Homo sapiens: one gene and its partners. The protein of the gene in region 3 interacts with the protein of the main gene of each other region in a biochemical or structural test. Each region holds a gene or a part of one and is shown on either strand. Other genes may lie near its edges.

Region 1 (7,023 bases), on a different chromosome or scaffold from region 3:
CACTTCCCTCTCCCCGATTTTTAGGGGCTTACGTGTTATCCTGGTATCCTGCGCAAGTCTCTAAAGTTACAGCAACGCACTATTAATTGTTAGGTGACTTCTCCACCTCCAGGGTGGAGTGTAAACTCCCTCTGGAAAGGGAGCACCTCGTTCCTTTCGCAACCCCAGTGCCTGGTGCAGAGCAGGTGTGTGATAACCATTTGTTCAACAGATAAGAATAACTCCATCAACAAGGGTGGACCTGGGTGATGATGGGATATGGCAACATCTCCAGTTTATTGGAAATACTGGAAATAGAATAAACTGCTCCTTAGGAACCATCTTAGATGGATCCTACCAGTATATCTGCCCTCCGCCTCCCATGTTTAGGTTTATAACATTCAACCTAAAACTGGGCAGAATCCCACTTTCCCATTTCACCCAGCAGAAGTTCCCAGTTGGGGCTGGGCATGGTGGCTCACTCACGCCTGTAATCCCCGCACTTTGGGAGGCCGAGGTGGGCAGACAGCTTGAGCTCAGGAGTTCGGGACCAGCCTGGGCAAGATGGTGAAACCCCATCTCTACCAAAAACAGAAAATTAGCCAGGCATGGTGGTGTGTGCCTGTAGTCCCAGCTACTCAGGAGGCTGAGGTGGGAGAATCACCCGAGCCTGGGAGGCAAAGCCTGAGTGACAGAGTGAGACCCCCAATCTCAAGCGGGGGGGAAAAAAGGAAGTTTCCAGTTGGTAGGACTTGGTTGTTCAAATTAAAGGACTTAAAAAATAATACTCACACTGCTTGTGGTTCCTTAAATTTTCCTACTTGCTGAATGTGGTACATGAGGTCCCCACCGTTGACATATTCCATGACGAAGTACAGCCGATCCTGCAGACCAAGGTTCAACACATGAGCAGGGCTCCTCCCCAGCCAAGTGGCTTCCTTTGCTCTTCACAGGTTGTGTTTTGCTTTCTCATTAGTTAAATGGGGACTGCATGGGCAGATGTGCTCAGTTTAGAGCTCTTTCACATTTTTTTCCAAAGAAAGAATAAGTAATAAACCCTACTGCATGAGGGCCTTGGGAAGTATAAAGTCATTACATAACCCTGAAATAATGGCTCTCCATCAACGTGCCTTCCTGTTACATATGCTATTATAGTAACGGCCTTGAACATTCTTCCCTATCTTCCTATACATATAATAAATTTCTAAGTAAGGGATGGTGTGAGGAATCCACATAAGGCAATTATTTCATTTTAACTAGTGCTTCTCCATGGTCCAAATGTTTAAAGGCTGGTTTGCAGTGTCTGGGAGGCGTGCCATACTAATGTAGTATCGTGTTTAAATGGATACTCCTGAAAACACATCTCTCAGGCTTAGGATTACACATGCTCAATATATTTACTGGACATGGGACAGGGGACTCTAGATGGAGATGCTAATCAAATGTTCTTTTGCATCTGTAATATGCCCAAACACTGTTTTTCTATTTTCTCTGTCACTGGTAGGCTAAGTGTTGGCCCCATGATGGGCATGTATCATAGACCCAAATAAATCTGCATATTCCTGAGGACATTATGCTGGGACAGATAGGAAGATGGAGGGGTTTAACAGTGAAATAATGACCTCTGCTCTCTGCTAGAAAACATCCCCATTTCACAGAGGATATTAAACATTAAAGTGCTGCACAGGGAGAAAAAAATGATGAAGCTGGTGCTAATAGCCAGGAAGCAACCCTGGGAGCCCCAGTCTCTAGCTTTCCTGTTATGAACTTTAATTTCATCTTCATTTCTTTGTTTTGTAGCTTTCCAGAGCTTAATCAGGGTAACCAGGGTTACAGGCTCTGGGCTGGGATTCAGAGCTGTGGTTGTCTCTTCCGAGCATGCTGCTCTCATCTCTCCCTGGCGTGACTTGATTCAGAGTCAGTGGGAACGGCTGGGAGCAGGAAGCTCAACGTGCCGCCAGCGCTAGGCTGACACGTAGTGGCCGGCGCCTGACTCCGCGGCCACTGCTACACACCCAGAGGCTCCGGGTGGCTGCAAAGCCATTTTGAGATTCTAAAACACAAAAGCACTGAGAGGTTCCTCCCAAGAGTTTTCAAAGAGGCATAAGACAGAAAGTCAATCTCTGATCAATGGGCAGTTGAAAATAGTAATAATCGCATCAATTACAGCTACTGATTATGGAGTCATATTTTAAATGGGCAGCCTCTGAGGAGTGGAAAGACCAGCTTTGGCAACGTCTCACTATGGTGGCATCTAAACATCTATGTTTCTTTTTTTTCTTTTTAAGACAGAGTCTTGCTCTGTTGCCCAGGCTGGAGTGCAGTGGCGCCATCTCGGCTCACTGCAAGCTCCACCTCCCGGGTTCACGCCATTCTCCTGCCTCAGCCTCCCGAGTAGCTGGGACTACAGGCGCCCGCCACCACGCCCGGCTAATTTTTTTTTTTTTTTTTGTATATTTAGTAGAGACGGGGTTTCACCGTGTTAGCCAGGATGGTCTCGATCTCCTGATCTCGTGATCTGCCCGCCTTGGCCTCCCACAGTGCTGGGATTACAGGCGTGAGCCACCGCGCCCGGCCATGTCTGTTTCTTGTAGGCCACTTGCAAGCCCTGCAACGGACTGATTAGTGCTTTGGAATGTCCTTTTTTGTCCTCTGTTTAGTTTTACTTTACGACAGAGCTCAGCAAACTTTTTCCACAAAGGGCCAGACAGTATGTATTAATATTTTAGGCTGTGAGTGTCTCTTGCAGCAACTCAACTCTGCCTTCATGGTGCAAAAGCAGCTGTAGATGACAGGTACACGAAGGAGTGTGGTGATGTCCCAAAACAGCTGTTTATGGATGCTGAAATTTAAAATTTGACCTAATTTTCACGTGTCACGATATATGACTCTTTGGATTTCCTTGTTGTGACCTTTCCTAAACTCACAAGCCATAGAGAATAGGCCACAGTTTGCCAGTCCCTGTTGTGTGGCATTGAACAAGAACATGCTCTTTTACAAAATCAAGTCTCCTTATGCTCCAATGCCATGTTTGGCAGTGGAACCAGTGGTCTTAAAAAGCCAAGACTGTGGCCAGGTGCGGTGGCTCATGCCTGTAATCCCAGCACTTTGGGAGGCCGAGGCGGGTGGATCACCTGAGGTCAGAAGTTCAAGACCGGCCTGGCCAACATGGTGAAACCCCATCTCTACTAAAAATACAAAAATTAGCCGGGCGTGGTGGCAGCGGCCTGTAATCCCAGCTACTCGAGAGGCTGAGGCAGGAGAATCCCTTGAGCCTGGGAGGTGGAGGTTGCATTGAGCAGAGATCGCACCATTGCACTCCAGCCTGGGGAAGAGAGAGTGACTCCGTCTCAAAAAAAAAAAGCCAAGACTGTGAGTTTTTTTGTTTGTTTGTTTTTGTATCCCAAAGTCTGAGCACAGTACCAGGCATGAAGAAAACCTTTCATGGAAATGTTTGCTGAATTAAGGCCAGGCACAGTGGCTCACACCTGTAGTCCCAGCACTTTAGGAGGCCAACGTAGGGGGATCGTTTGAGCTCAGGAGTTTAAGACCAGCCTGGGAAACATGGTGAAACCCCCGTCTCTACTAAAAATACAAAAATTAGCTGAGTGTGGTGGGGTACATCTGTGGTCTCAACTACTTGAGACTGCAGTGGGCCGTGACTGTGCCACTGCACTCTAGCCTGGGCGAGAGAGTGAGATCCTGTCTCAAAAAAAAAAAAAAAAAAGAAAGAAAGAAAGAAAAAGAAAAAGAAATGTTTGCCGAATTAAATGGCATGAATGCCAAGCAGAGGACATCACAGAGAAGGCATGCCCCAAATCTACCAGTGAGAGAGGTGGGAGGTGGTCCCCAGTCACCTCTGCTTGACATCACAACACACCTTTCTCCAGCCTTCTCCAAAGGAACAAGGATGCTAAGAAGCTTTGGGCTGAGGCGTAGCTCTGAGAGCTGGGTACTGCATCGCAGGGATTCCCAGGGTCCTTACCACTGTCTGGAAGCAGGAGTGCAGCTGCGTCAAGAACGGGGGTTTGTCAAGCAGGGCCAAGACTCGCTTTTCTACCATGGTGCACTCCACGTCATCATCCTGAATCACCACATCCTTCTTCAGGATTTTGATTGCATACAGTTCTTCTGTGCCCTTCCTGTCGGCAAGCATCACCTGAGAACACGTCAAGAACAACCTGAACACTTGTAAGCACATATCTTGGGGGGCAGAGGGAAGGAACCAGGCCAGGTGACGGCTCAGTGACAGTTTGTGCACCTTTGTCAATGTGGAACATAAAAATATTAAACTTTATGTGCAAATTTGTAAATTCTACACATCACTACAAATTCAGTCCCTCCAGCATTTGCAAAACTTCAATGCTGCCAAGATTTGTAAATGGTATAGGCCACTGCCACATAATGGCACTATTTTGGCTGCTAAAATGAATACTCAACATTCTCTATCAGGATTAGTCTGGAATAATGCACATTTTTCAGGAGTATCCTTAGAGTGAAAGCTGACTGACATTTATAATCTCTCAAGTCAAGAACCTAGACTTGAAATCAGTTCCTGCGTCTATGAAATGTGGGGCCACAGAAACCGAATGGAGATACAGGCAAATTGCTGAAGACCCCATGTCAGTATCTCTTAATGATTGTATTTGCTTACTACAAGTGAACATTTAATTTTTAGTTGTGAAAACTATTCATCAACCAGCATTTCTGAGCATCCCTTCTGTTCTGAACACTGAGAAATAGTAACAACACAGTGAACCCACTATAGCTTTTTGGATGCAGTTGCTTTTAAGGAAGTAGAAACCAGGTGAGGACTGTGCACTCTGATCTGAGAGACCAAATAAATGCCTCTTTAGCGACTAAGATGGACCCTAATGTCGCAGGCATTTGAACCAGAGTGACTCCATCTTGAATAAGGGATGGGAAAAATAAGGCTGAGATCTGCTGGGCCGCATTCCCAGGAGGTCAGGCATTCTTAGTCGCAGGATGAGATAGGAGGTCAGCAGGGCTAGTATCACAAGACACAGGTCAGAAAGACCCTGCTGATAAAACAGGATACAGTAAAGAAGCCAGCCAAAACGCACCAAATCCAAGATGGCGATGAGAATAACCTCTGGCTACCCTCATTGCTCATTATATGCATTATTAGCATGTGAAAAGACACTCCCACCAGCACCCCAACAGTTTACAAATGCCATGGCAATGCCCAGAAGTTACCTTATATAGTCTAAAAGATGGAGGAAGCCTCAGTTCTGGGAATTGCCCACCCCTTTCCCAGAAAACTCATGAATAATAAAACCCTTGTTTAGCATACGATCAAGAAATACCTCTAAGTATACTCAGTCAAGCAGCCCATGCTGCTGCTCTGCCTATGGAGTAGCTGTTCTTTCATTTCTTTACTTCTCTAACAAACTGACTTTCACTTTATTCTGTGGACTCGCTCTGAATTCTTTCTTGCTTGAGGTCCAAGAACCCTCCTCTTGGGGTCTGGATCAGGACCCCTTTCTGGTAACATTAAAGTTAAGGAAATAGTTATCTATGGGTTGAGGGTTCAGGGCCCAGCTGGCATGGCAAATTTCTAAATCCCTACAGCTACAAGATAAACCACTCTCGCTAAACTCCCTAGCAGTAGGAGCTATCAGGCCCCTCCTAACTTTGATTGACAACTCAGATCACTATGACTTGGACTGGACAGAGAACTGGCCTTACAAACATTCTTTTCTGTGATGCAACTGCAGACCTGAAGCCAGTTTCAGCAGCTTGCAGAGCCTGCACACAAACTGTTTTTGGGTCCTGTGGTTCACCTTTTGATCTAAAGAGCCAACTTCCACCTTTTTTTATTTATTTACTTTTTTTGAGACGGAGTCTCCCTCTGTTGCCCAGGCTGGAGTGCAGTGGCATGATCTTGGCTTACTGCAACCTCCACCTCCCAGGTTCCAGCGATTCTCCTGCCTCAGCTTCCCGAGTAGCTGGGATCACAGGTGCACACCACCACACCCAGCTAATTTTTGTATTTTTAGTAGAGATGGGGTTTCACCATTTTTGCCAGGCTGGTCTCAAACTCCTGACCTCAAGTGGTCCACCTGCCTTGGCCTCCCAAAGTACTGGGATTACAGGCATGAGCCACCATGCCTAGGCAAATTCCACCTCATTTTAATGCTAAGTCCCCACCCCAAAGTGAACATAAGATGCATGTTACATATATGTTCATCCATTGTGCCTGTGCTAGGCTTCCCTCACAGATAAGTCAAGCTTTCCCCCCAAACCTGTTGAATATGGATGACTCTACTGTGTAACATGGACCCTGTGAGGCATAAAACCCAACCTGCCCTTTCTCTCCTCAAAGAGAGGGCACCTTCATTTCACACCATAGACTTTCTTTTATGGGTTTGCAAACTGATACCACCAATAAACCTCTCCTTTCTACCATTTAGCCATCCTGGTGGTCTTCTGGATGACTGTACAAATCACAGGGAAATCTTTTTTTTTTTTTTTTTTTGAGACGGAGTCTCACTGTCTCCCAGGCTGGAGTGCAGTGGTGCGATCTCGGCTCACTGTAAGCTCCGCCTCCCAGGTTCACGCCATTCTCCTGCCTCAGCCTCCCAAGTAGCTGGGACTACAGGCGCCCACCACCATGCCCAGCTAATTTTTTGTATTTTTAGTAGAGATGGGGCTTCACCGTGTTAGCCAGGATGGTCTTGATCTCCTGACCTTGAATCACAGGGAAATCTAATGTGCTATTCTGCAAACTACGAGGAGAACAAAACTGATTCGACATTCTCTGCAGAAGCCCCTGCAATTTGCAGACGACTGTCCTCTTACCTTTCCAAAACTCCCCTTTCCCAACACCATGAGGAAATTGAAGTCCGTGAGTTTCACTCGGTCAAGGTTGTTGGAAGGTTGTTTCCTGTCTTCAGAGGGACTGATGACTTTGTTGCCAGCAGGGCCAAGTTTGGCTTTCTAAATAACAAGCACAAATGGGAAACACGTGGGTCATTTTTCTGGGGAAAGAGTGACAGAAACCACCGTGTTGTAACTGAGTTT
Region 2 (7,023 bases), on a different chromosome or scaffold from region 3:
AGCAGAGACGGAACAGCTGCAAAGGTCACGGCGCCCACCCAGAGCTGGTAGATGGGGCGCTGGCGCCGCAGAGGTGGGCCCCACAGCCTTCCACACAGGGGCATCTGACCCACGGCCCGGCCCCTTGCAAAGCCAAGGCCGCAGAGGGGGAAGGTGCAGGAGCTCTGAGATGAAAGAGGTGATGAGTTTGCGGCAATGTAGGAATGAAATACATCGGCCACAGGAGGACGCAGGTGCAAACCACCGAAATAAAGCCATTGCCACACAGGCGGACAGGACGGGGCTCAGGGAGAACCGCTGCTTTTCTCGGGTGCGATCATGGTGGGGTGTCGGGACATGAGGTGAAATGTGCTGGGGCGTGTGAGGGTGCCTCAGTGTGCTTCCCAGCATTCATCCAGGAGAAAACAGACAATGCGTGACACGGCAACAGACGTGTGCACACATGACACAGAAACGCACGTGCACATGCAGAAACACATGCACACATGCGCACACGTGCACACACGACACAGAAACGCGCACACACGACGCAGAAACATGCACACACGACGCAGAAACGCGCACGCGCGCATACACGACGCAGAAACGCACGCGCGCACACGACGCAGAAACGCGCACACGTGCACACAGAAACGCACACACGACGCAGAAACGCGCACACGTGCACACGCAGAAACGCGCACACGTGCACACACGACGCGGAAACGCACACACGTGCACACAGAAACGCGCACACGTGCACACGACGCAGAAAAAGCAAACGGCACGATGCGGTTTCAAGGTGGTGGCCGGAGCCGCCTCCTTGGTGCCCTTTGCCATTTTGCCGCCCGTGGGAATCCTGGGGCAGAAATACAGCAGCACAAAGGCTTTGGGAGGGGCTGGGGGACACCCGAATGGCCAGCTCCATGCATGGGGACACAAGCATCCAACCTCTGAGACTCAGCCGCTGAGCCAGCCCACAGAGGGTCAGGAGCTCTGCCCGCCAGCAGCCACCTGCCCCTCCAGGCTCCAGGCAGCCACTGCCCCCACTCCTGGGGAAGCCCAGTGATCCCAGTCACAGCTCCCTGACTCCGGGGAGCAGCATTCACCCCGAGTCTGCTCTGAGGCCAGACATCCCCTCATAGGCCACCTCCCATGCCGAAACCCTACACACCCACGGGGCTGAGAGGAGCCAGGGCTGCCACTCAGGCCTCGGCACCGAGAAGTCCGGCAATGCCCGGACCCCTGCTCCCTGGGGGCCCAGATGGCACGTTCAGGCTCCCATGTCAGGGCTGCTTCTGAGAAGGGCGGGGTCTTGAAGCACAACCCCCTCCACTCCCCATGGCCCGCTCCCCACAGAACCCACCCAGGGGCTCAGGGCCGCAGACCCCCGTAAGTCAGGTCCCTCGGCCCGTGAGCCCAGCGCACTCACTTGATCTTGCTGAAGACGATGTCCACGTCAGTGACGGTCACGTTCCTGCCGTCGATCACCTGGCAGTCCTTGCACAGCTTCGACCAGTTCTTGCCGTGCATCTCCCTCCCGGTGGCCCTGGCGTCCCCGTGCACGGCAAAGCGCCGGAAGGCCTCCTCCAGGGCACTGAGCTCAGGGGATGCGGCTGCCCCCTCACCAGCACCCTCCGATTCCAGCGACAGCCTCTTGGCTGCCCGGTCCTTCGAGGGGTCCCCCGGGGACTTGGGGGGCGTCCTGTTGGCAGCTTTGGCAGGCTTGGCCTTGTCAGCCATGTTGCTATGGAGGAAGGAGAGGAGAAAGGTGTCACCCGGGCCATGTCCCAGCTGAGCCGGGTGCAGCCCAGGAAACCCCGCCGTACCAATGAGCACCAGGACGTGGCGAGGGCTGAGATGGGCAGGCCCTCCTGGGGCTGGGCGTGAGGCCCCTCAGACCCTTGGAGCCAGCTGCCCCGCAGGCACGCATGTCCAGCCCCGGGCAGAGTGGAGCCAAGCGAGGCCTTGCCCACTGCCATCATTGGGCCAAGGACCCCCTAAGCCAAATAAAGCCAGCAGCACGCAGAGCCCAGGGTGGGAGCTGAGCTGGGTGCCAGGGGCTCCAGGCCTAGGAGGCTCAGTGTGTGACTGGCAGCATCAGAGCCTATTCCGGGTCCCCTCCCCGCCGCAGTTCCACTGTCCCTCCTGTGGACGCCCGCTCTGCAGCTCTGGAGGACACCTCGGGATCACGCACTCCCCAGGGTCTGTGACGTGCTGCCTTCCTCTGGGAGGGTCCACAGCAGTCGTGCGACAGCCGCTCCCTCCCCACTGCAGAGCCTCTGACCTTAGATGGAGCTTTAGGCTGGGGAGGGTGCGTGGTGGCCCTGGGGGCGCCTCAGGATGCTCTTCCCAGGAGCCCTGGGCCTGGCCCCGGCCAGGGGAGGGGACTGCCAGTGTGCAGGGCTGAGGCAGTGGTGGGGGCACCGGTGTCAGGGCGCAGGGACGCCCTCTGGACTTTGCAAGGCGCCCGCCCCCAGAGTAGGCGGCTGGGCCATGGGGTTGAGAAGACTGAGGGGTGCCACCCAGGCAGGGCTTGGGGACGCAGGGCTACGCCACAGGGCAGGGCTGCCGAGGCCACCTCCCTACCATGCATGGGCTTCGGTAAGACCCAGTCAGGCCCTGAAGGACTCAAGGCTGAGGTGCTGGACTCAGGGCATGAAAGCTGCTTCCCAAAGGGGCCTGGACACCAGGTGGGCCGTCAGCACTGCACTGAGAGCTGAACATGGCCTCTGCCCACAGACACAAGAGCCGGTGGGAGGGTCCGTGCCGAGGACACAGGTAGGTGTCCCAACCCTGGGACTCACGAAGCCCTCTCAGATCTGGAGTTCTCAGCGCCAGTCATGGCCAAAGTGTGGCTCTGTAATCGTGGGGTCCTGAGTGTGGCCGCTGCTGACCCTGAGATCCCACAAATTCCCCCAAAACAGCCAGAAAAAAATCCAGGGGCACTCCCTCCACTGAGGACCTTAAGGGCCTCAGGCCCCACCCACTCACCCCTTTCCCTGGAAGGCACCAAAAATGCAGATGCCAACCCAGCGGAGGATGCAGGGGCAGGATCCTGGTGGGGGCTGGGCCGCGTGGGGGCAGGATCCTGGGGGTGGAAGGGCCGCCTGGGGGCAGGATCCTGGGGGTGGAAGGGCCAGGTCAGGTGTCGAGCTGGGAACAGTTTCCAGTTTTATCGCTGACACCATTTCTTTGTCTGAAACAGGAGCTTCTCACAGGCCTGGTCTGTGTTTCCCCTGGGCCTCTGCAGCAGGGGTCGCTGGACAGGAGGAGCAGCTGAGAAATTACCAGAAGCAATGGTGGGTTTTGTGAGCACCCAGAACAGTGGTGGGTGTGCGGGTCAGAGAGAAAGAACCTTCTGGGATGCTTCAAACTCAGGGCTGCGTTCTGTGGTCTCATCTCCTGTGGGGACGCGCCTGAACAGAGACCCTTATTCACACACCTCAGAGAGTCATCTGAGAACCTGCACCCCGTGGGGCCCGCCTGGGAGCAAAGGGATGAGGGAAGCCCCTCAGAGCCACCTTCAGGGCTCACGCAGGACTTCCCAGCCCATCAGCACGTGCTTTGCATGAGGTTTTGATAAGCTTGGAGGTTGGCCTTGGAGGGCTGAGCGGGACATAAAACGTCCTGCCCTCATGAGGCCTTCAGTTGGGACAAGTGATAAACAAATAAGCAATGACACATCAGGCAGCGAGGAGTGAAGAGGAGAAACTGAGGCAGGTCAGAGGGAGGCCAGCAGGCGATTTCAGACCTGGCGGAAGAGAATGTGCGTGAGCAGAGATGCGGACGGGTGGGAGTCACGACGCGTGAGAACGGTCCGGCCCGCGGCCCCTGCGCCCCTGCTGGGCAGGCACCACCTGTGCTAGGCTCAGCCCCTCTCAGCACAGCAAGCAGCATGAGATGGCACGCATGAGAGCACGGTGGGGGCCGTGGGGGAGAGGGCAGAAAGGAACAGGGGTCAGGCCATCGCCGGATCTACTGAAGACAGACACTGCCTTCAAACGTTCTGAGGAAAAATGCTTCAGGCTGGGACTTGGATACCCACGTCCACTGTCCCACTCAGGCTGAGGGGAGCAAGGCCACCTGCAGTGGGTGTGACCTCAGAGACGTGGCCACACCCCCTGCGGAGGTGCTTGGTGACTGGGCTTCCCAGGAAGACGAGGGTGACAGCCGTCAACAGCCGAGAAGAAGTAGTAGATGCAGGAACCCATGGCCGTCACACGGGAGTGAGTCCACGGGCGCTTGGGAGGGCTGAGAACCAGGCCCAGGCAGTTCCGGAGGGAAAAGTGGAACCCGTCCCAACTCAGCCCCAGCCTTTCTGCACCAAGGGGTGGAGCAGTGCCGACCTCAGACGCCAGCTGCCAGAAATGCTTCCAAAGCCCGCCTCTGCGTGGGGTGTGTGCTGAGGGGTCTCACGTGGGGACTCGCCTCAGAGCCCATCTGAGCTTCACTGTTCTAGGTTCTTGTAGTTTTGTTTTACCTCAAACATGCATTAGCTTAACAAAATATTTTTTAAAAGGTTTTTAAACTAAAAATGACAATGAATTAGGCACGACGTGCCGCTGTGGGAAGTCAGCCAGGCTGCTGCTGGGTCTGGAGGAGCAGGACACGGGCCACAGACACGGAGCAGGAGTGGAGGAGATGGGAGCCACACTGTCTGGATCGCTTCATTAGACCCACGTGCTGTTTCCACAATGACGGTAATAAGAATACATTTAATTTTGAGAGAACATGGAGGTGTCAGACGGACAACGAGCCTGGGTGGGCGCCTCTCCCTTGGCGCTCTCCACCGAGCATGGCATGCTGCTGTGCCAGCTGCTTCTCCTTGGATGGGCAGAGGCCAGGTGTCCTCCACTTTCCCAGTTTCTGGGCACAGCACACCTGAGCCCTGGGTGCAGACCCTCACACCATTTCCCCCAGAGGCTCTGCTCTTTCACCGTGAGGGAAAAGAAGGTTGTGTAGCAGAAGAGACTCCAGGAAGACAAACTGCTCACCTGGGGTCAAAGGACAAGCTCCCAGGCGTGTACCCACCATCTCCACGCGTGTGCCCTGAGCCCCCAGGGGGTCACCCTGCACTCCCAGGCCTGTGCCCACCATCCCACATGTGCCCAGCACTCCCAGGCCTGTGCCCGCCATCCCAGTTGTGCCTGTACTCCCAGGCCTGTGTCTTGCATCCAGATGTGCACCTGCACCCTCTCCCACTGGCCGGCACCTCCCTGGTAGGAGGGACGTGCCAAGCCCTGACCTGACCCAGGTGTCTGCTCACAGCACATGCCCCTTCCCTGGCCAGACCCTATGGGACCACAAGTGGGGCCTGGCCAGGACCTGCTTGGAGGCTGAGCCCACCCCACTCCCACCCACCCCCAGCGCCTCCCCAGGGAGTCAGGAGGATGGCACCTACGGGCTCACCCACGGGTGTGGGCAAGACTGTGTTGTCCAACTGGCATCTTCAAAAAAGGCTTGGAAAGGACAGAAGATGAGGGCAGAGGTGGCACCACAGACCTCAGAGTGGGGCAGGCAAAGGCAGACCCCAGAGGGTGGCTGTCCTAGGGAACGAAGCCTCCTCGCAGGCCAGGGAATGCCTGTCCCAGGTGTGTCACCAGCTCCAAGGACTCGGCCACCTAGGCGGGGCTTCGTCCCAGACACCGCAGGCCACCTTGGCCCCAACCCCACAGGCTGTCCCTGTTCCCAAGAGGCCCCACGGAAAATCACCTGGGCCCCATTTGTCAGAATGAATCTCCTGGGAAACGCCTTCAGACTGGACACTGGACTGCCCAAAGCCAAACTTACAGAAAACCTGCCAGAACAGAATTGACAGGGCTGGGGAAACAGCAGCCCCAGCCTCTGATCACAGAGCTGTCCAGGGGCTGGAAACCCGGGTGTCCATGTGGCATCAGTAAGCGGGGCCAGGCACTAGGACTGACTGGGCTCTGTCACTAGGAACAGGGGTCTCGCACTTGGGCCAGGGGGTTCTCACTAGGACCAGGGGCCTGTCAGTCACTAGGGCCGGGGCCTGTCCCTTGGGCCTGGAGCCTGTTACTAGGGCCTGGGGTCTGCCCCTTGGGCCTGGAGCCTGTTACTAGGACCTGGGGTCTGTCACTAGGGCCAGGGGTCTGCCCCTTGGGCCTGGAGCCTGTTACTAGGGCCTGGGGTCTGTCACTATGGCCAGGGGCCTGTCAGTCACTAGGGCCAGGACCTGTCCCTTGGGCCTGGAGCCTATTACTAGGACCTGGGGTCTGTCACTAGGGCCAGGGGTCTGCCCCTTGGGCCTGGAGCCTGTTACTAGGACCTGGGGTCTGTCACTAGCGCCAGGGGTCTGCCCCTTGGGCCTGGAGCCTGTAACTAGGGCCTGGGGTCTCTCTCACTAGGGCCAGCTGCTGTTTTAAAGGTAGCAGCAGCCTCGGTGCTCCCTTGTTCACTGCCCACGCCCACGCGGGGGTGGCGCCGACAGAGCCTACACGACTGCTCTCCATGTGGATGGCTGTGGGGTGGCTGAGCCTTGCTGGCAGAGGAGGCTGGTGGACAGGCTGTGCTCACATCATCAGCAGTGCTGGGTCAAAGCTGGAGGCAGGAGCCATGGAGTCAGTGGGAGCTACCACCCCTCAGCTCATCACCCCTCCCTGGGGCCTGAGACCTCAGAGCCAGCCCTCGGCCCTGCTCAGGCTCTGGCCTCCCTGAGAACCTCTGTCCTGGTCACAAGTGTCCTGCAGGCCCCCTGGGTTGTGCTGGGCTGGACCAGGCCAGGGTGTGACCTCTGACAGCTCCACCTGCCCTAGAGAAGCCACCAGCAGCTTCTCCAGCTGCACCCGCTGACCCCCAGAGCTCGCTCGCAGGCAAGTGCCCATGGTAGGACAGCTGCTTGTGCCTCAGTCTCCTCATCCTTGAAGGGGTGCAGCCCCCTCCCCATCTCCCTCGCACCCGATGGCCTCATGCAGGCACAGCCCGAGGGAGAACCTGTCTCTGCGGAGAAAGACACTCTGATGGCAGCCGACTGGATTCCACCAGAACCCGAGGGCAAGCATTCCTTGGGAAGTGACCAGG
Region 3 (7,023 bases):
TGAAAATTAACAATAATTATTTTTTTAATCTGCCAAGGGTCTGTCATTCAAAGAATTCTTTAATATCATTAATCATTCTTTTTGTTTGAATAAATGCATAGGAGGCTATAGCTGTGTGTTCTTTCATGGGTACACTATTGATTACACACACAGATGTGAAACACTGTGAATATATTCAGTGCATTCTTCCTTATTAACAAACGTGTGTAAACAAACAAACAAAAAGAACATGTCCATGCCCTTGGATCTCCCAGCTCCCCATCTCTCAGTCTCTGAACTCCAGCAGCAGGGAGACAAACTGGATAATCCTTAAAATACTGTTGTGAAGACAAGGAAAGCAGATGATCTAAAACTAAGTAGTTAAAAGAAACAAGTAACTTTGTTGTATTGGTGATTCAGTGAGTTGGCTCTTCAGAAGGGATTTTGTGTGCATTGACCTGGATCTGTACTGGATTTCTCCAGAAAGGAAACTTCAGCTTATCTTGGGTGCCCCCTTATCCTGCTCAGCATGAGACAGAGCACCCTGGGGCCCCTGGAATCTCAAAGTCTACTTTCTAGAAATTCATTGAAGTCTCTTATTCTCTGACATCCTTTCCACTCTCTCTTTCTGGGTTGCTGTTTGTTTACAATTTCTTTACTGTATTTTGAATGGGGTAGTAGGAGGTTGAGGAAGTAAACCTGTGCTATCAATCCACCATTTAACTTGAAGGTGGTTGAACTTATTTTGAATTTCCCTTCTGTTTTCTTTTTAAACTTAGCTTGAGTGCTAGTTCTGCTGTTTATTGACTTTGATGGCTCTCTTTTAGAGTCAGCTTTCTTCAGATCTTTTCTTTCTTCCTGTCTTCCCCAATGATATTTTTTTCTTTTCCTTTCTTTTTTTTTGAGACAGAGTCATGCTCTGTCGCCCAGGCTGGAGTGCAGTGGCCCGATCTCGGCTCACTGCAACCTCCGCCTCCTGGGTTCAAGCAATTCTCCTACCTCCACCTCCCAAGTAGCTAGGATTACAGGCACGCGCCACCACGCCCAGCAAATTTTTTGTATTTTTAGTAGAGACAGGGTTTCGCCATGTTGGCCATGCTGGTCTCGAACTTCTGGCCTCTAGTGATCCGCCCACCTTGGCCTCCCAAAGTGCTGGGATTACAGGTGTGAACCACTGCGCCCAGCCCTCTGGTGATAATTTTTATGTCCTACTGTGTTTCTCTTCCTCTAATGATTAACTTACTAAAAGTTTAGAACCAAGATTTATCTATCAATGTCAAAAATAAAACAATCATCCTCCACCTACTCAACACCAGAGCTTTTGCTTGTTTTTATTCCCCAATTCCAAGCTCTTTTCCCTCAATTTTAAGAATCTTTCTATATCACTTGCATTAAATTTCACAACTACATTATCAACCCATTAAAATGTGACTCTTAAGTTTGTCTAGATTCAATGCATACCACTATTTCTTGCATTTCCCTAAAAAAGCTGCCTTAGATCCTCTCTGGAACAAAGCAGGGGGTAAATGACCAGATAGAAGGATGGATGGATGATAGATTATTCATTTTGCTTTCCCCAGTCAGAATTAAGCCCTCCCATGGCCCCTTGCTGGGCTTTCTGTCAAAACACGTGCATCGCATCTTTTCAGTATCTGTTTTGCGTGTCGGTCATACTCACCCCTCTGAGTGCTCATTCTCTCGCCTATAAAATAGAAGAAGTAGTAGAGGTGGCCTGTAAGGCATTGGGGAGGAGGAACTGCCCTTTCACTGGCCTCATGACAGCCCCAGCCAGCACCCCCGCTCTAGTTCCACCCACAGAAGCAAGTCTCACCCCTACCCCCCAGGTCTCTCCACTTCCTGCTAGAGAATCACCCAGCTCCCCAGCCTGGCTTGAGGCTCTTTTCAGCCTTAGCTGGCTCCCCGCAGCTAAGAGCCCCATGCTCCATTTGGGCCTCCAGTGTCACAGGGTTTGACCTGCTGTTACTACTACCTTTGTCATAGGGGCAGGTAGTGGGCGGACATGATCTAGAGTACCCCACAGAGTCAGGAGCCCCCATGATCTGAGATAGACCCTAGAGCTGAGCCTGAAATTGGGTGGGCACTGAGGGGGCAGCGATGTTTGCTGAGGGAGAGGTTCTGGTGAGAGACTAAATGAATGAGCGAGTGAGGTAATGGATAAATAAAGATAAGAATGAAAAAATGGTAAGATGATTAAATTGGTGACTGAATGTAAGGGTAAATTAATGGAAGAATGGATTCATGGATTAAATAATTAATGGGGAAATTAATGAATGAGAGAATGAACGAGTGGTTGAATGGGGAAATGAGTGGTAGAGGAAACTGGCAACTGTTGGGTTGGGGGTGTCTATGGGGATTGACTTCTCCAACTCTCTTACCTCTTTTTCTTCTGCCCCCAGTGTCCTCTATTTCTCCATCCACCGCTACGAGCAGGGTAGGTTCTGGCCCCACCTGAAGGCCTCTAACTGGTCCACCACAGGTTTCGGCCAAGGCCAAGGATATACCATCAATGTGCCTTGGAACCAGGTCAGCATCTACCCACCTCTGCCCCCAAAGTGAGGCCCAGCCCCGCCCTTCTGTCAGCGGCTCGGGACAGGTGGCTGAACATCCCCCATCACACTCCTGTGTCTGCAGGTGGGGATGCGGGATGCTGACTACATTGCTGCTTTCCTGCACGTCCTGCTGCCAGTCGCCCTCGAGGTCCTGGGGATCTGGGGTGTGTTGGGAGGAGGAGTGGCCTTGAAGGTTAGGCTGTGAGGGTAGGTAGCCTCATGGAGTCTGTTCCCCCTTCAGTTCCAGCCTCAGCTGGTCCTGGTGGCTGCTGGATTTGATGCCCTGCAAGGGGACCCCAAGGTAAGGCAGGCTCCCTGGGGCGGCAGGTGGGTTGCATGGAGCCAGGCTGACCCTCCATGTCCCCCCAGGGTGAGATGGCCGCCACTCCGGCAGGGTTCGCCCAGCTAACCCACCTGCTCATGGGTCTGGCAGGAGGCAAGCTGATCCTGTCTCTGGAGGTGAGTGACTCACCTTCGTCCCTCAGCCTGTGGATCCTGGAGGGCTTAAGAACGAAGCTTTCAAGTCCAACAGGAGTTCCTGGCCCAGGAATTCACTTACTAGCTGGACAACCTTGCATAAGTCACTTCACTTCTTTGTGCCTCCGCTTTCCTTCTATAAAACGAGCATAATGTAATCACCTCATATCATTGTCCAGTGAATTCAGTGAGGCACCCTTCTAAGTTCCTTGTTGCTTGACATGTGGTATGCACTCTCTTATTATCATCATTATTATTATTCCCTGGTCATGTCTGGTCCTTTCCTGATCCCCCTTCACAACTCCTTGCCCCAGGGTGGCTACAACCTCCGCGCCCTGGCTGAAGGCGTCAGTGCTTCGCTCCACACCCTTCTGGGAGACCCTTGCCCCATGCTGGAGTCACCTGGTGCCCCCTGCCGGAGGTGAGCCCCGGTGGAGGAGGGGAAAGCGGGAGCCTCACTGCCCGCCCACATTCCTTGACATCATATTTTCTCCCTGCCCTGCAGTGCCCAGGCTTCAGTTTCCTGTGCTCTGGAAGCCCTTGAGCCCTTCTGGGAGGTTCTTGTGAGATCAAGTAGGAAGTGGGGTGTGGGCCTGGTGTGGGGTGGACGTGGGATGAGCCCTGGGGGAGACTGTCTTCAGACTTCCTCTGACTTTACTGGGCTGCCTTGGTGGGAGAGGGTCAGGCCCTCTCTCTCTCCCTGGGCCCTGGTTTCAGGCCTCCCACCCCTTTTTCTGTTTGGGTCACCTGAGTTCCAGAGTATGACGGGGATTCAGATTGAGAGGGTAGGACAAACGTGGCCTCCCCCTTTTAGCTGAGACCGTGGAGAGGGACAACATGGAGGAGGACAATGTAGAGGAGAGCGAGGAGGAAGGACCCTGGGAGCCCCCTGTGCTCCCAATCCTGACATGGCCAGTGCTACAGTCTCGCACAGGGCTGGTCTATGACCAAAATATGATGAATCACTGCAACTTGTGGGACAGGTAGGCATTTGGAGGGCTGGATGAGTAGGTGTTGGGGGTCCCTCCCCCTCAGGCACTAAGCCTCTACCTCTCGTTTCCCCACTGCTAGCCACCACCCTGAGGTACCCCAGCGCATCTTGCGGATCATGTGCCGTCTGGAGGAGCTGGGCCTTGCCGGGCGCTGCCTCACCCTGACACCGCGCCCTGCCACAGAGGCTGAGCTGCTCACCTGTCACAGGTCAGACCCCGGTGCCTGGGGTGGGTGGATTCCCAGGACTGTGGATGAGGTCTCAGGGGCTGGAACTTGGGTTTCCCCTCCTGGGGAGCTGCTGCAGGACTTGAGAGGGGCTGAAGTCCCTGTCTTAGGGGTGGGGACCAGGGAGGGGACAGACCCTCCTCACTGTCCTGCGGGTGCTCCTCTCTGTGCTTCCAGTGCTGAGTACGTGGGTCATCTCCGGGCCACAGAGAAAATGAAAACCCGGGAGCTGCACCGTGAGAGTTCCAACTTTGACTCCATCTATATCTGCCCCAGTACCTTCGCCTGTGCACAGCTTGCCACTGGCGCTGCCTGCCGCCTGGTGGAGGCTGTGCTCTCAGGAGAGGTGTGTCCTCTGTGGGCTGGGGAGAGGAGGACCTGGGGGGAATGGAAAAAGAGAGCCATCTGCTGTTTCTGGAGGCTCTGAGAGAGTCAAGCAGGGCCTGAGGAAAGGGGCCATGGGGAGGGGCACGGGAGGGGGTGGGCCTAGAGGCTGGGGGAATAATGGAAGGAACTGGAGAAAGGGAAGGGTGGCCAAGTGCAGTGGCTCACGTCTGTAATCCTAGCGCTTTGAGAAGCTGAGGTGAGCTCAGGAGGTCAAGGCTGCAGTAAGCCATGATTGCACCACTGCACTCTAGCCTGGGCAACAGAGTGAGACCCTGTGTCAAAAAAAAAAAAAGGTCCGGGCGTGATGGCTCACACCTGTAATCCCAGCACTTTGGGAGGCCGAGGTGGGCAGATCACGAGGTCAGGAGATCGAGACCATCCTGGATAACATGGTGAAACCCCGTCTCTACTAAGAAACATACAAAAAATTAGCCGGGCGTGGCAGCAAGCGCCTGTAGTCCTAGCTACTCAGGAGGCTGAGGCAGGAGAATGGCGGGAACCTGGCAGGCGGCGCTTGCAGTGAGCCGAGATGGCGCCACTGCATTCCAGCCTGGGCGACAGAGCGAGACTCCGTCTCAAAAAAAAAAAAAAAAAAGGAAGAAAGGAAGGTGAGGGCAGGCTGTCCGATCTTAGCACCCTGCTGCTTCCCAGGTTCTGAATGGTGCTGCTGTGGTGCGTCCCCCAGGACACCACGCAGAGCAGGATGCAGCTTGCGGTTTTTGCTTTTTCAACTCTGTGGCTGTGGCTGCTCGCCATGCCCAGACTATCAGTGGGCATGCCCTACGGTAAGGACTCCCTGGGGACCCCCCAAATCCTGATCCTTGTGGGGACCTGGATGCTCCCCCCAGCCCATTGTTTACTCATGCCCCATGGTCCAGCTCCCAGGACTTCCTTCCCCAGAAAGAAGTAAGGGTGCAGTCCTTACCCAGAGAAGGACCGAGGATGGAGCCTCTCAGTGCTTATTTAGATAGGACCCCCAGATCATGTTACCTGGGCACTTACAAAACAGGATCCAGGGTCCCACCCCAGCATTTCTGGCCTATAGCAGCTGCCTCGACAGAACCCAGGTCTAGGCTCCTGATGCATACTCCAGAAGACCCACGAACCAGCCCCCAGCATTAGCTGCCCAAGGCCCAGGGTCCAGTTCCCTAGCAATGACCCAGAAGAGCCCAGGGCCCAGCCCCGAGCACTTGCTCAGGCCTACCGGGCAGCCCTTGGGAACCAGGATCAGACTTTTCTCCTTAACTGATAGGACCCAGGGTCCTGCCACTCAGCACTAAATGCCCCTGCAGACCCCAGGGGTCTAGCCCAGCCCTCTTCCAGGGCGTGAGTATCGTCGGTTACTGAGGTGCTGTCTCCTCCCCAGGATCCTGATTGTGGATTGGGATGTCCACCACGGTAATGGAACTCAGCACATGTTTGAGGATGACCCCAGGTAAGGGCTGCAGTCAGGGGCCGCAGTGTGATCAGGGAGGCGGGTGAGCACCTCAGGGGTACTGGAGCCCCTAACCAGCCATGGTCCGCTTCCCACCCCCTCCCTGGCAGTGTGCTATATGTGTCCCTGCACCGCTATGATCATGGCACCTTCTTCCCCATGGGGGATGAGGGTGCCAGCAGCCAGATCGGCCGGGCTGCGGGCACAGGCTTCACCGTCAACGTGGCATGGAACGGGCCCCGCATGGGTGATGCTGACTACCTAGCTGCCTGGCATCGCCTGGTGCTTCCCATTGCCTACGAGGTACAGCTCAGGATAGATCGCAGGACGTATGTGACACGCCTGTGCAGGTGGCAGCCTGGACCTGCCTCCTTGGCATGTGTGTGTGTGACTACCATGTGGCTGATGATATGAGACAGCGCATGGGTGTTTAATGAGGCTACCAGGGCAGTTGGTGGCTGTGATCACCTTGTGTATTTGTGCACAGATGGCTGTACATGACTGCCTTCTCTGTGTGACACTGTGTGAGTGACTGTCTTGGCTGTGTGTGTGAGGGCCTTCTGACTATGCACCAATGGCCCGTGTCCTGGCTGGATCTGTGTTGTATGTGCGTGCCATCACAAGTGCTTGAGTATGTGCGTGTGCGACTCTGTGCAGGCAGGTATTTCTCACCTTTTCTCTGTGTGATGGGTGTGATACTGTATGTCACTAAATGCAACCATCTCTGTGACAGCCTGTGTGGGACCTTCTGGATGTGGAAGGCTGTGTGTGACAGCAGTCACTGTCTGGCTGTCTGCCCTGGCTGTTTGTGTGTATGTCTCTGACTGGGAGGTAGCTGCCTTCCCTCTGTGTGAGCTAGGAGGCTGGTGGCTTGTGTATGGCTGACTCTGGGAGGGAGGGAAAGGGTGTGAGCACCGCTCTGTCACCCTGGGCGCCGGTGTGCATCTTTGGATCTGC

The links.
Region 1: the proteins of HDAC6 (region 3) and PRKCA form a complex in vitro, tested with the Homo sapiens proteins (2 studies listed by BioGRID, with this or other methods).
Region 2: the proteins of HDAC6 (region 3) and TPPP form a complex in vitro, tested with the Homo sapiens proteins (2 studies listed by BioGRID).

Annotation. Positions count from the first base shown.
Region 1 is NC_000017.11:66,732,604-66,739,626, reverse strand, and holds part of PRKCA (protein kinase C alpha type), read right to left. Parts: intron 6,940-7,023; coding exon 6,802-6,939; intron 4,139-6,801; coding exon 3,965-4,138; intron 864-3,964; coding exon 772-863; intron 1-771. UniProt on the Homo sapiens protein: Calcium-activated, phospholipid- and diacylglycerol (DAG)-dependent serine/threonine-protein kinase that is involved in positive and negative regulation of cell proliferation, apoptosis, differentiation, migration and adhesion, tumorigenesis, cardiac hypertrophy, angiogenesis, platelet function and inflammation, by directly phosphorylating targets such as RAF1, BCL2, CSPG4, TNNT2/CTNT, or activating signaling cascade involving MAPK1/3 (ERK1/2) and RAP1GAP.
Region 2 is NC_000005.10:676,339-683,361, forward strand, and holds part of TPPP (tubulin polymerization-promoting protein), read right to left. Parts: intron 3,605-7,023; exon of another isoform or gene 3,171-3,604; coding exon of another isoform or gene 2,974-3,170; intron 1,727-2,973; coding exon of another isoform or gene 1,723-1,726; coding exon 1,412-1,722; intron 279-1,411; exon of another isoform or gene 1-278.
Region 3 is NC_000023.11:48,812,044-48,819,066, forward strand, and holds part of HDAC6 (protein deacetylase HDAC6), read left to right. Parts: intron 1-2,396; coding exon 2,397-2,523; intron 2,524-2,631; coding exon 2,632-2,697; exon of another isoform or gene 2,698-2,790; coding exon 2,791-2,850; intron 2,851-2,918; coding exon 2,919-3,008; intron 3,009-3,340; coding exon 3,341-3,447; intron 3,448-3,531; coding exon 3,532-3,599; intron 3,600-3,840; coding exon 3,841-4,009; intron 4,010-4,097; coding exon 4,098-4,226; intron 4,227-4,421; coding exon 4,422-4,590; intron 4,591-5,282; coding exon 5,283-5,416; intron 5,417-5,997; coding exon 5,998-6,066; intron 6,067-6,176; coding exon 6,177-6,369; intron 6,370-7,023.